Regions from separate parts of the Homo sapiens genome. Here region 1 is linked to region 2. Evidence: fine-mapped expression QTL. A gene starts in region 2. The other region holds a variant in brackets. All regions are shown on one strand. Distances are between the middles of the regions.

Region 1 (5,000 bases), 480 kb before region 2:
CATTGTGGAGCCGGGCAGGCACTGAAGACCCAGATGGTCAGGGCAGTGATGGAGAATACCAGGGGGCGGTGGGGGCCCGGAGGGGTACCTGCTGGAGCCGAGGTGTCAGGGAAGGCTTCCTGAAAGAGATGGCATTGGAGCAGAGCTGGGGAGGAAGAGTATTGCAGGCATGAGGAGCAGCATTTCGTATGTCCAAGCTGGCACAAGAGGGCCTGGCTTATTTGGTGGACTGAGAGAAATTCCACATAGAGAGGGAGTAGCGGGTGTCATGGCGAGTTCAGGCTGGTTTGTGGATGGGCCCCCGTTCAGCTGCCCTTGTTGGGCACATCAGCTGCTAACCCTGCCTGTCCACAGCGGAGTCCTTCCCAATGCGGTGTTGCCCCCATCCCTGGATCATGTCTATGCGCAGTGGAGACAGCAGGAACCAGAGACCCCAGAATCAGGGCAGCCTCCAGGGGATCCCTCAGCAGGTACTGGGAAGTGGGGGTCCAGAAGCCAGGGCCCTGTGTTGGTGGCCTGGCTCCGGGTCCTGATTCTTAGACCTCCCTTCACATTTCCTCTTCAGCATTCCAGGGCAAGGATCCGGCTGCCTTCTCACACCTGGAGGACCCCCGTCAGTGTGCACTCTGCCTCAAATACGGGGATGCAGACTCCAAGGTGAGGGCTGCTCTGTGACGCACCAGGTTGTGGGGCCTGTTCCCTGGCCTCCCCACATCATGCCACTCCTCTTCTGCCCCAGGAGGCGGGGCGGCTCTTGTACATCGGGCAGAACGAGTGGACACACGTCAACTGTGCCATCTGGTCGGCGGAAGTCTTCGAGGAGAACGACGGCTCCCTCAAGAATGTGCATGCTGCTGTGGCCCGAGGGAGGCAGATGGTGAGGGCGCGGGCGCAGAGAGGTGGACAGCTCTCTGGCTCTTGGGGAGGCCTCCTCCGGTGCAAACAGCTCTTACTTCACATTCCCTACCTGGCATCCTTTCACTGCCAGGCTGAGGTCTCTTGGTTGCCCTGGGACGTTGGTGCTGATGGCAGCTTTTTCCTATGTGGGCCCTCTGGCTGTAATCTGGGCCTGAAGTGTGGGAGTCTAAAAGTGAGAAGAGTGCCCATTGATTGAACCTGGGCTGCACGCTTTCCATGCTGGGTGGCGTTGAGCTCTCACTACATCCCCGTGAGGTTAGAATTCCCCCACTCCTCACAGTGGTGCCTGGGCCAGGTACAGAGAGACCTCAGGCACTCTCGGGCATTGGGGTGGTAGAGATTCCCACTGCGGGGGTATCTGTGAGGATGAAAATAACACAACCTCCGCCTGAAAACTGTGACAAAGATAATCACACTAATGCTATCAGCAAGTATTGTCATTCTTGCTTCAAAGAACCAGAGAGAGTTTGGTGTGCACCTGGGCCTGGATGCGGCTGGGGAGAGGCTGCGCCTAGGGAGAGCCTTTGCCGTGCCAGGCTAGACAGGGACCCATGCAGACTCAGTGACAGTGGTGCCTGGCGCCCAGCCCCAGCCCTGGCTTCTCCCCTGAGCTGCCCTCCCCTACGCAGCGCTGCGAGCTCTGCCTGAAGCCTGGCGCCACGGTGGGCTGCTGCCTGTCCTCCTGCCTCAGCAACTTCCACTTCATGTGTGCCCGGGCCAGCTACTGCATCTTCCAGGATGACAAGAAAGTCTTCTGCCAGAAACACACTGATCTCCTGGATGGCAAGGTGGGCCAGAACTGTGGGGTACACGGTTCCTTCCCCACCTCTCTTCCTGTTCACTTAGGGACCCCCGTGGCCCCCAGGCCTGGCCCTACTGCCTCTCAGTGTCTCCTCATCTGTTTTCCCAGAGGCCTTTAGGCCAAGCCCCTGACTGTTCAGACTTCCCTGGCATCCACCTCCCCCACCAATGCAGCCACCTCACTTTGCCACCCCCTCTTCCAGGAAATTGTGAACCCCGATGGTTTTGATGTTCTCCGCCGAGTCTATGTGGACTTCGAGGGCATCAACTTCAAGCGGAAGTTCTTGACGGGGCTTGAACCCGATGCCATCAACGTGCTCATTGGTAAGCTGCCTGCTCTCCGCCCTGTCCTCCTACCCTGTCCTGCCTGCCTCTCCTGACCTCCGCTTTGCACCACAGGTTCCATCCGCATTGACTCCCTGGGTACTCTGTCTGATCTCTCGGACTGCGAGGGACGGCTCTTCCCCATTGGCTACCAGTGAGCG[G/A]TCGGGGTGATCCATGGGGCCAGGGGACTCCATAGCTGGATCCCATTTCCCAAGCATCCTAACCGTCTTATCCCACATGCCAGGTGCTCCCGTCTGTACTGGAGCACAGTGGATGCTCGGAGGCGCTGCTGGTATCGGTGCCGAATTCTGGAGTATCGGCCATGGGGGCCGAGGGAAGAGCCAGCTCACCTGGAGGCTGCAGAGGAGAACCAGACCATTGTGCACAGCCCCGCCCCTTCCTCAGGTGTGGCTTTGGCTCTGTCTTCTTCCTGAATACCGCTCTCCCTAAACAAACCTACAGATCTCTGTTCCCCGCTCCCTTTTGGAAAGTCCAGGAGGCTTGCTTTTGCTTCAGTTGCTGTAATGTAACGGCAGCTCGCTTACTGCCATGCCTTGTGTGCCAGGGGCTGTGCCCGGCTTTTCATGGGAAGTGAGGTGGGGAGAGCGGCACGCTGCCTACTTGAGGTGGGGTACTGGCTTTTGGACGACTGCAGGGAGTAGAGTGCTTACAGCTCCCTAACTTGGGGCACTGTGCTCATGGAGCGCTCTCCAGTGTCGCCATACTACACCTTGAAGGGGACAGTGGCTGAACACAGTAACATGCTAGGGAAGCTGGAATTGGAACTGCATCTGCTCAGCTCCCAAACCGGCCCCCTTACAGCCACACTGGCTGTGGGATGTGGCTGAGAGCTGGATGGCACAGGGCAAAGAATGGGCTTGGAGATGGGGGAGAGGTTATTGTGGGCAGAGCAGGAGGCAGAAGAGATTTGGATGGTAGGAAGGGCTTTATTCCAGGTTGGAGCATGACAAGAAGTGGACAGAGGAGGAGGGTACACCCATCCCGTCTGGAAACCAGGGAGTTTTGGGTGGAGGAGGGAGATCAGTTTGCAGAGGTTGGGTGGAGCCAGGTAATGGAGAGCCTCCGGGCCGGGGCGGGCGGGAGCGTCTGATGTGGCTTGGATGCACCAGGCAAGTAAGAAAGTGGTAGGACTGGCCGTGCTGGAGGGAGGGCAGTTCCCCATGGCGTGCAAAGCCTGCAGCAGAGGCAGAGAGGAGATGGCAAGGAGCGAGTGGGGAGAGGCCCTGAAGGCCCCCTGGCCCAGGTGTGTGCAGGTTTTGCCAACTCCACGGTGGGTTTAGCCTGGGTGGTCACTGGAAACTGGGGCCTGTTGTGACTGGGTCAGGGTCGGGGACCTGGGAGGCATAGTGGCTCAGGATGAGAGCATGTGGGCAGGCTTTGACACAGAGCCCCTACCACCCCAATGCCATTTCTCGCCTCTTCAGAGCCCCCAGGTGGTGAGGACCCCCCACTGGACACAGATGTTCTTGTCCCTGGAGCTCCTGAGCGCCACTCGCCCATTCAGAACCTGGACCCTCCACTGCGGCCAGATTCAGGCAGCGCCCCTCCTCCAGCCCCCCGTTCTTTTTCGGGGGCTCGAATCAAAGTGCCCAACTACTCGCCATCCCGGAGGCCCTTGGGGGGTGTCTCCTTTGGCCCCCTGCCCTCCCCTGGTGAGCACCGGGCATGTGGGGGTTGGGGGTGGAGCCGCGGAGGTGGGAGCTGCTGGTAACACCAACCCTCCCCCCACAGGAAGTCCATCTTCACTGACCCACCACATCCCCACAGTGGGAGACCCGGACTTCCCAGCTCCCCCCAGACGTTCCCGTCGTCCCAGCCCTTTGGCTCCCAGGCCGCCTCCATCACGGTGGGCCTCCCCTCCTCTAAAAACCTCCCCTCAGCTCAGGGTGCCCCCTCCTACCTCAGTCGTCACAGCCCTCACACCTACCTCAGGGGAGCTGGCTCCCCCTGGCCCGGCCCCATCTCCACCACCCCCTGAAGACCTGGGCCCAGACTTCGAGGACATGGAGGTGGTGTCAGGACTGAGTGCTGCTGACCTGGACTTCGCGGCCAGCCTGCTGGGGACTGAGCCCTTCCAGGAAGAGATTGTAGCCGCTGGGGCCATGGGGAGCAGCCACGGGGGCCCGGGGGACAGCTCCGAGGAGGAGTCCAGCCCCACCTCCCGCTACATCCACTTCCCTGTGACTGTGGTGTCCGCCCCTGGTCTGGCCCCCAGCGCTACCCCTGGAGCCCCCCGCATTGAACAGCTGGACGGCGTGGACGACGGCACTGACAGTGAGGCTGAGGCGGTGCAGCAGCCTCGGGGCCAGGGCACGCCTCCTTCGGGGCCAGGAGTAGTCCGGGCAGGGGTCCTTGGGGCTGCAGGGGACAGGGCCCGGCCTCCTGAGGACCTGCCATCGGAAATTGTGGATTTTGTGTTGAAGAACCTAGGGGGTCCTGGGGATGGAGGTGCTGGCCCTAGAGAGGAGTCACTCCCCCCGGCGCCTCCCCTGGCTAATGGCAGCCAGCCCTCCCAAGGCCTGACCGCCAGCCCAGCTGACCCCACCCGCACATTTGCCTGGCTCCCAGGGGCCCCAGGGGTCCGGGTGTTAAGCCTTGGCCCTGCCCCTGAGCCCCCCAAACCCGCCACATCCAAAATCATACTTGTCAACAAGCTGGGGCAAGTATTTGTGAAGATGGCTGGGGAGGGTGAACCTGTCCCACCCCCAGTGAAGCAGCCACCTTTGCCCCCCACCATTTCCCCCACGGCTCCCACCTCCTGGACTCTGCCCCCAGGCCCCCTCCTCGGCGTGCTGCCCGTGGTCGGAGTGGTCCGCCCTGCCCCGCCCCCGCCACCCCCTCCCCTGACGCTGGTGCTGAGCAGTGGGCCAGCCAGCCCGCCCCGCCAGGCCATCCGCGTCAAGAGGGTGTCCACTTTCTCCGGCCGGTCCCCGCCA
Region 2 (5,516 bases):
AACCCTGTCTCTACTAAAAATACAAAAAATTGGCTAGGCGTGTCAAAGGAGTTACAAAAAGGAAAATGGAGACCAGACATGGTGGTTCACATCTCTAACCCAGCACTTTGGGATGCTGAGGGAGGAGGATCACTTGAGGCCAGGAGTTCGAGACCAGTCTGGCCAACATGGTGAAACCCCCCTCCCCCCGTCTCTACTAAAATTACAAAAAATCAGCTGGGCACGATGGCATTTGTCTGTAATCTCAGCTTCTCAGGAGGCTGACGCAGGAGAATCGCTTGAGCCTGCGAGGTGGAGGTTGCAGTGAGCTGAGATCACAGCACTGCACTCCAGCATGGGTGACAGAGCAGGACTCCGTCTCAAAAAAAAAAAAAGAGCAAATGGGAATTCTATTGTTGCTACATTTTAAAGTCTTAAATTCAAAATGAAAAGTAAAGAAAAAAATTTAAAAGAACATTAGGTATGCAGGGAGCAGGGAGGATATAGGCCTTTCAGTCCATCTCCAAGGCACGCAGTAAATTACTCCTATGGCAAATACTGGAGACCAGGTTACTTTGGTAGGGGTGAGGGTGGTGGTGGGGTGGTTCTGAAGTTTCAGAAGAAGGAAAGAAAAGCATGTCCTGAAAAACAAGAAGGATTTCAGAGAAATAAGAATAAAACCTGATGTACTTGAACTTGGCACCTTTCTTGGAGAAGGGTTAAGAGCAAGGAATCATGAACAACCAGGTCATTTTTGAACCACCATCCTCCTTACCTACCATATAGGGAAGTGTGGTCACAGAACACCAGGCATCTGCCTAAATCCAGTGTCACTCAGAAGGCTGAGGTCACTCCTGTCCAGGGCCAGAATCTGTCCTAACTTCAAAGGTTCTGCATGGGTCAAGCACTAGAGTCACTGGCACACTTGGTGCTGCACATACAGTCAGTGTCACACAAACATAACCACACATCCACTCTTTTATTTTTTTGAGACAGGGTCTCGCTCTGTCACCTAGACTGGAATGCAGTGGTTCAAACACGGCTCACTGCAGCCTTGACCTCTCAAGCTCGAGATCCTCCCACCTCAGCTTCCCGGGTAGCTGGGACCACAGGTGTGGGCCACCACACTCAGATAATTTTTAATTTTTTGTTTGTTTGTTTTTGAGACGAAGTCTCGCTCTTGTCCCCCAGGCTGGAGTGCGATGGCGCGATCTCGGCTCACTGCAACCTCTGCCTCCTGGGTTCAAGCGATTCTCCTGCCTCAGCCCCCTGAGCAGCTGGGATTACAGGCACCTGCCACCACGCCCAGCTAATTTTTGTATTTTTAGTAGAGACAGGGTTTTATCGTGTTGGCCAGGCTGGTCTAGAACTCCTGACCTCAGGTGATCCACCCGCCTCGGCCTCCCAAAGTGCTGGGATTACAGGTGTGAGCCACCGTGCCAGCCATTAATTTTTTTTTTTTTTTTTTGTACAGGCCAGGCTGGTCTCGAACTCCTGGGCTCAAGTGATCCTCCCACCTCGGCCTCCCAAAGGGCTGATGTGAGCCACCACACCCGGCCCTACATCCACTCCTGAGACACAGGACACAATCACAGACACCTCTATACCTTTCCAGTCACAATATCTTTCCAGTCACAATCACACACCCGCTAAGACACACCCAGTCACACAATCTACTCTCCACTGTGATACAGTTACTCCCGTATAGTCACAAGCCCCACACACCAACACCCACAAATGCCTCATATAGTCACAGTCACACACCCACTCAGGGGACACACGCCATCACTGGTACTTTACGGCACCCAGTCACAACTGAACTTTCACTGTGGACATACACACAGTCACACTCACACAAGCAACCCACACAAGCAGTGGCACCCCACTCCCGCATACACAGCACCACACACATACACACAAACACACACACCAAGGGATACAGGAATACACAAGCGGCGTCACCACACAGTCACAGGCACAGGCAATTGCACACGGCCACAGTGTCACACAACCAAAACCACGCACACACCTTGGAGACATGAATCACAACCGCACACCCGCAGTGGTCACACAGTCACAACTGTACTCACACCCCAGGAACAGGGCGAACAGGCCACATATACAACGGGGACACACGCAGTATCACCCCCGGTCACAAGGACCCTGCACCCCGATACTCTCTATCACACATGGTTACACAAAAACCACCAGACACCCTGGAGACAGGCGGTTACACGTGCACAGTTGCAGACACCCACACCCAGCCACACAGCCACAAAGACACATTCAGAACGGCGCATCCGCAGCCAGCTCCCGCCTGCGCGCACAGATTCGAGGCTCCGGACACGCCCCGGCCCCGCCCAGGACTCCCAGACCCCTCACCTTCTGCCTCCCCTGGTCGCGTCCGGGTCCTTGCGGAGCTAACTAGCTCGCCACGACGTCAAGAACGACGTAACGTCAGGCCGCTGTGGGCTCTGGGAATTGTAGTCCAGAGCTAGATCGGCCACGGACAGAATGGCGTTCTCTTATCTCTGAGTCGGGGCCTGGCTCGTTTTGACATTTTTGCGCCCACGAGTCTTCGGAGAGGGCGTCGCCACTCCAGACCTTCCAGCAAGCTTGAAGTCATCTGACGCTAAAGGACTACTTACCTCAAGAGCTCCATCGTCACAGAAGGAGGCGGCCAAGTTCGCGGGGGGAGGGGAGGAGACAGAGAGTCGACCAGTAAAGCCTCAAGGGAAATGTAGTCCAAGGCCTGAGAAGCGACGTTGCTGGTAATAGAAGGTAATTCAGTACCAGCCTGGGCCTGGCCGCGGTGACCGAGGCGGGCCGCGTCGCGGAGACTTCTGGGAGTGCTTCCTCGCTCTCCGAGTGCGCAAGCGCAGCGCACCGAGTGGACATTTTGGTCTTTGTCCGCGGGTCAGTACGGCCCCTGGGTCCACGTGGCGCGAAAGTAGGAGGTGGGATCTGGGCGTCTCGGGTCGGTCGGACCGGGGAGGTTAAAGGGGAGGATTCCTGATCTTTAGGGGCGCGGCGCGAGGGCAGGGAGTGGGTGTAAGAGCTTCTGGCCTACGTGCGGGGCGGAGATGGGGGCCTCTGAGGCGGGTTTGAGCGAGTGTGACCGAGTTTGTCCTCAAAGTTTGACCTGATGTTTGGGATTGTTGAGTGAATGTGAAACTGGGTGCGGGATTGTGTGTGATTGTGCCTAAGAGGGAGATGTAGGAGACCAGCATTGAGGTATAACGTTTGAGCTGCACTTCCCTTGTCGAAAGTGCTGATAATTATAACGGTGCCATCTTCCTGGAGCGTCTTTTTTACTTGAAAATTGAAGGGGTGGAAAAGCTAAGTGGTGAATAATTTTAAAACGAGTTTTTATATAAAAGCATTTCTTTTTAATTGGAGTGGCATGCAAATCACCGTGACTTTTTTTTTTAATTAAACGAGAGTGTTTCGAAGGAACTTTAGTTTCGGGGTGCCTACTTCAGACTATTCAAATCCCCATCTTTGGGGTACTTAAATAGGGCTGTTAAGCAAAGCCCTAGACTAAACAGCATTGTACGCTTTGAGAAGCAATCCCATATAACGGCGCCCAGGATGAGGGAGTCAACGGTTTTAGGTTAGGCACAGTTATCCTCATTTTTTGAAGAAAGCTTAATTGTTGCAGTGTTTATCTATGAGTCTGGACTAAATCCTAGGTGTCTTAATTCCTTAATGAGTCGAGGCGTTCTCAGGTTGTATGGATTTTGTGAAGTAATGGAGAATGCTACTGACGTCTCCAAAGATGCGTTTTCTAAGGAAATCACCCCGCCCCCGCTGTCGTCATTGACATAGTTTTAAATTACAAAAAGTTAAATAAAGTAATTGGGTACCAAGTTAATATCTATAAATAAATAGCCTTCTAATTTACAAATATCAGTTAGAATACATAGTTGAAGAAAACTAATATTTACAATAGCAGTAAAAAGATAAAGTATTGTGGAAGAAACTTAAAGGTTCAGAACTATTAGGAAAGAACTTTAAAATACTACTAAGGGGCATAACAAATGTGAACAAATAAATATACCATGTGACATTAAGAAGTGTGCGCAAACTTAAGTGAATGTATTAATTTACTGTGATCTTGGTCGGGTGCGGTGGCTCATGCCTGTAATCCTAGCACTTTGGGAGGCCGAGATGGGTGGATTACCTGAGATCAGGAGTTCGAGAGGAGCCTGGCCAACATGGTGAAACCCTGTCTCTACTAAAAAAAAATAAAATAAAAAAATACAAAAATTAGCCGGGCGTGGTGGCGGGCGCCTGTAATCTGAGCTACCGCGGAGGCTGAGGCAGGAAAATCGCTTGAACCTGGGAGGCGGAGGTTGCAGTGAGCCCAGATCTCGCCACTGCACTCCAGCCTGGACAAGAGCGAGATTCCGTCTCAATAATAGTAATAATGTGATCCTAATAAAAGTATGGACAGGCTTTTCTCTTTTGGAACTAGGGGAACTGATCCTAGACTTACTATGGAAAGAGACAAGCTGCAAGAGCCAGTACAGACTGAGAAAGAAAAGGCGTTGAGGTGTGGGGAGATGGGGACCCAACACATTTTAAATATAAAGCCTCAGGCCGGGCTTGGTGGCTCACACCTGTGAGCCAAGGCAGGAGGATGGCTAGAGTCCAGGAGTTAGAGACCAGCTTGGGCGACATAGTGAGATCTCCCGTAGTCCTAGCTGCTTGGGAGGCTGAGGTGGGAGGATCACTTGAGCCTAGGAGGTCAAGGCTGCAGTGAGCAGAGATCCTGGCGACAGCATTCCAGCTTGGTGGACAGCCAGTCCCTGTCTTTTTTTTTTTTTTTTTTTTTTTTTGAGATGGAGTCTCTCTCTCTTGCCCAGTCTAGAGTGCAGTGGCCCAATCTCTGCTCCCTGCAACCTCTGCCCCCCAGGTTCAAGCGATTCTCTTGGCTCAGCCTCCCGAGTAGCTGGGATTAGTTGCCTGCCACCACACCCGGCTACTTTTTTTGTATTTTTAGTAGAGACAGGGTTTTACCATGTTGGCCAGGCTGGTCTTGAACTCTTGACCTCAAGTGATCGGCCCGCCTCGGCTTCCCAAAGTGCTAGGATTACAGGCATGAACCACGGTGCCTGGCCGACCCTGTCTTAAGAAAGAAAGAAAGGAGAGAGAGAGAAGAAAGAAAAGAAAAACAGTTCATGCCCATCAGTGGGAGATTGGTGTACATCGATACAACAAAATAATACATAGCTGTACAAAAGAATGAGGAGGAAGCTCTTTATATACTGAGACAGAAATAACTTCAAAATGTATTGTTAACTGAGAGAAAGCAAGGTGCAGAATGTAGAGTATGATACACGATGCATTTGGAATAAGAAAAGGGGTAATAAGAATATGTATTTATAATCCCAGCACTTTGGGAGGCCAACGCAGGCGGATCACCTGAGGTCAGGAGTTTGAGACCAGCGTGACCAACATGGAGAAACCCCGTCTCTACTAAAAATACAAAATTAGCCAGGCGTGGCGGCACATGCCTGTTAATCCCAGCTACT

What was found. PIP is the estimated chance that this variant, and not a neighbour inherited with it, causes the effect.
Region 1: its variant is the best candidate, but not a certain one, in a credible set for the expression of ZNF565 in prostate (GTEx, PIP 0.57).

Annotation. Positions count from the first base shown.
Region 1 is chr19:35,728,420-35,733,419 of GRCh38, forward strand. KMT2B (lysine methyltransferase 2B) reads left to right here. Exons shown (of 37, transcript NM_014727.3): 20 at 355-470; 21 at 566-657; 22 at 740-877; 23 at 1,548-1,706; 24 at 1,923-2,043; 25 at 2,119-2,197; 26 at 2,288-2,448; 27 at 3,489-3,716; 28 at 3,796-5,000. Among named protein-coding and RNA genes, the nearest start is that of IGFLR1, 12 kb to the right of the region's middle. The variant G/A (reference allele first, on the strand shown) is at 2,205.
Region 2 is chr19:36,212,261-36,217,776 of GRCh38, forward strand. It overlaps ZNF565 (zinc finger protein 565), which reads right to left and starts at 2,405. Exons shown (of 5, transcript NM_152477.5): 1 at 2,362-2,405. ZNF146 (zinc finger protein 146) reads left to right here and starts at 2,846. Exons shown (of 4, transcript NM_007145.3): 1 at 2,846-2,936. RefSeq lists enhancers at 2,360-2,789, 2,900-3,089.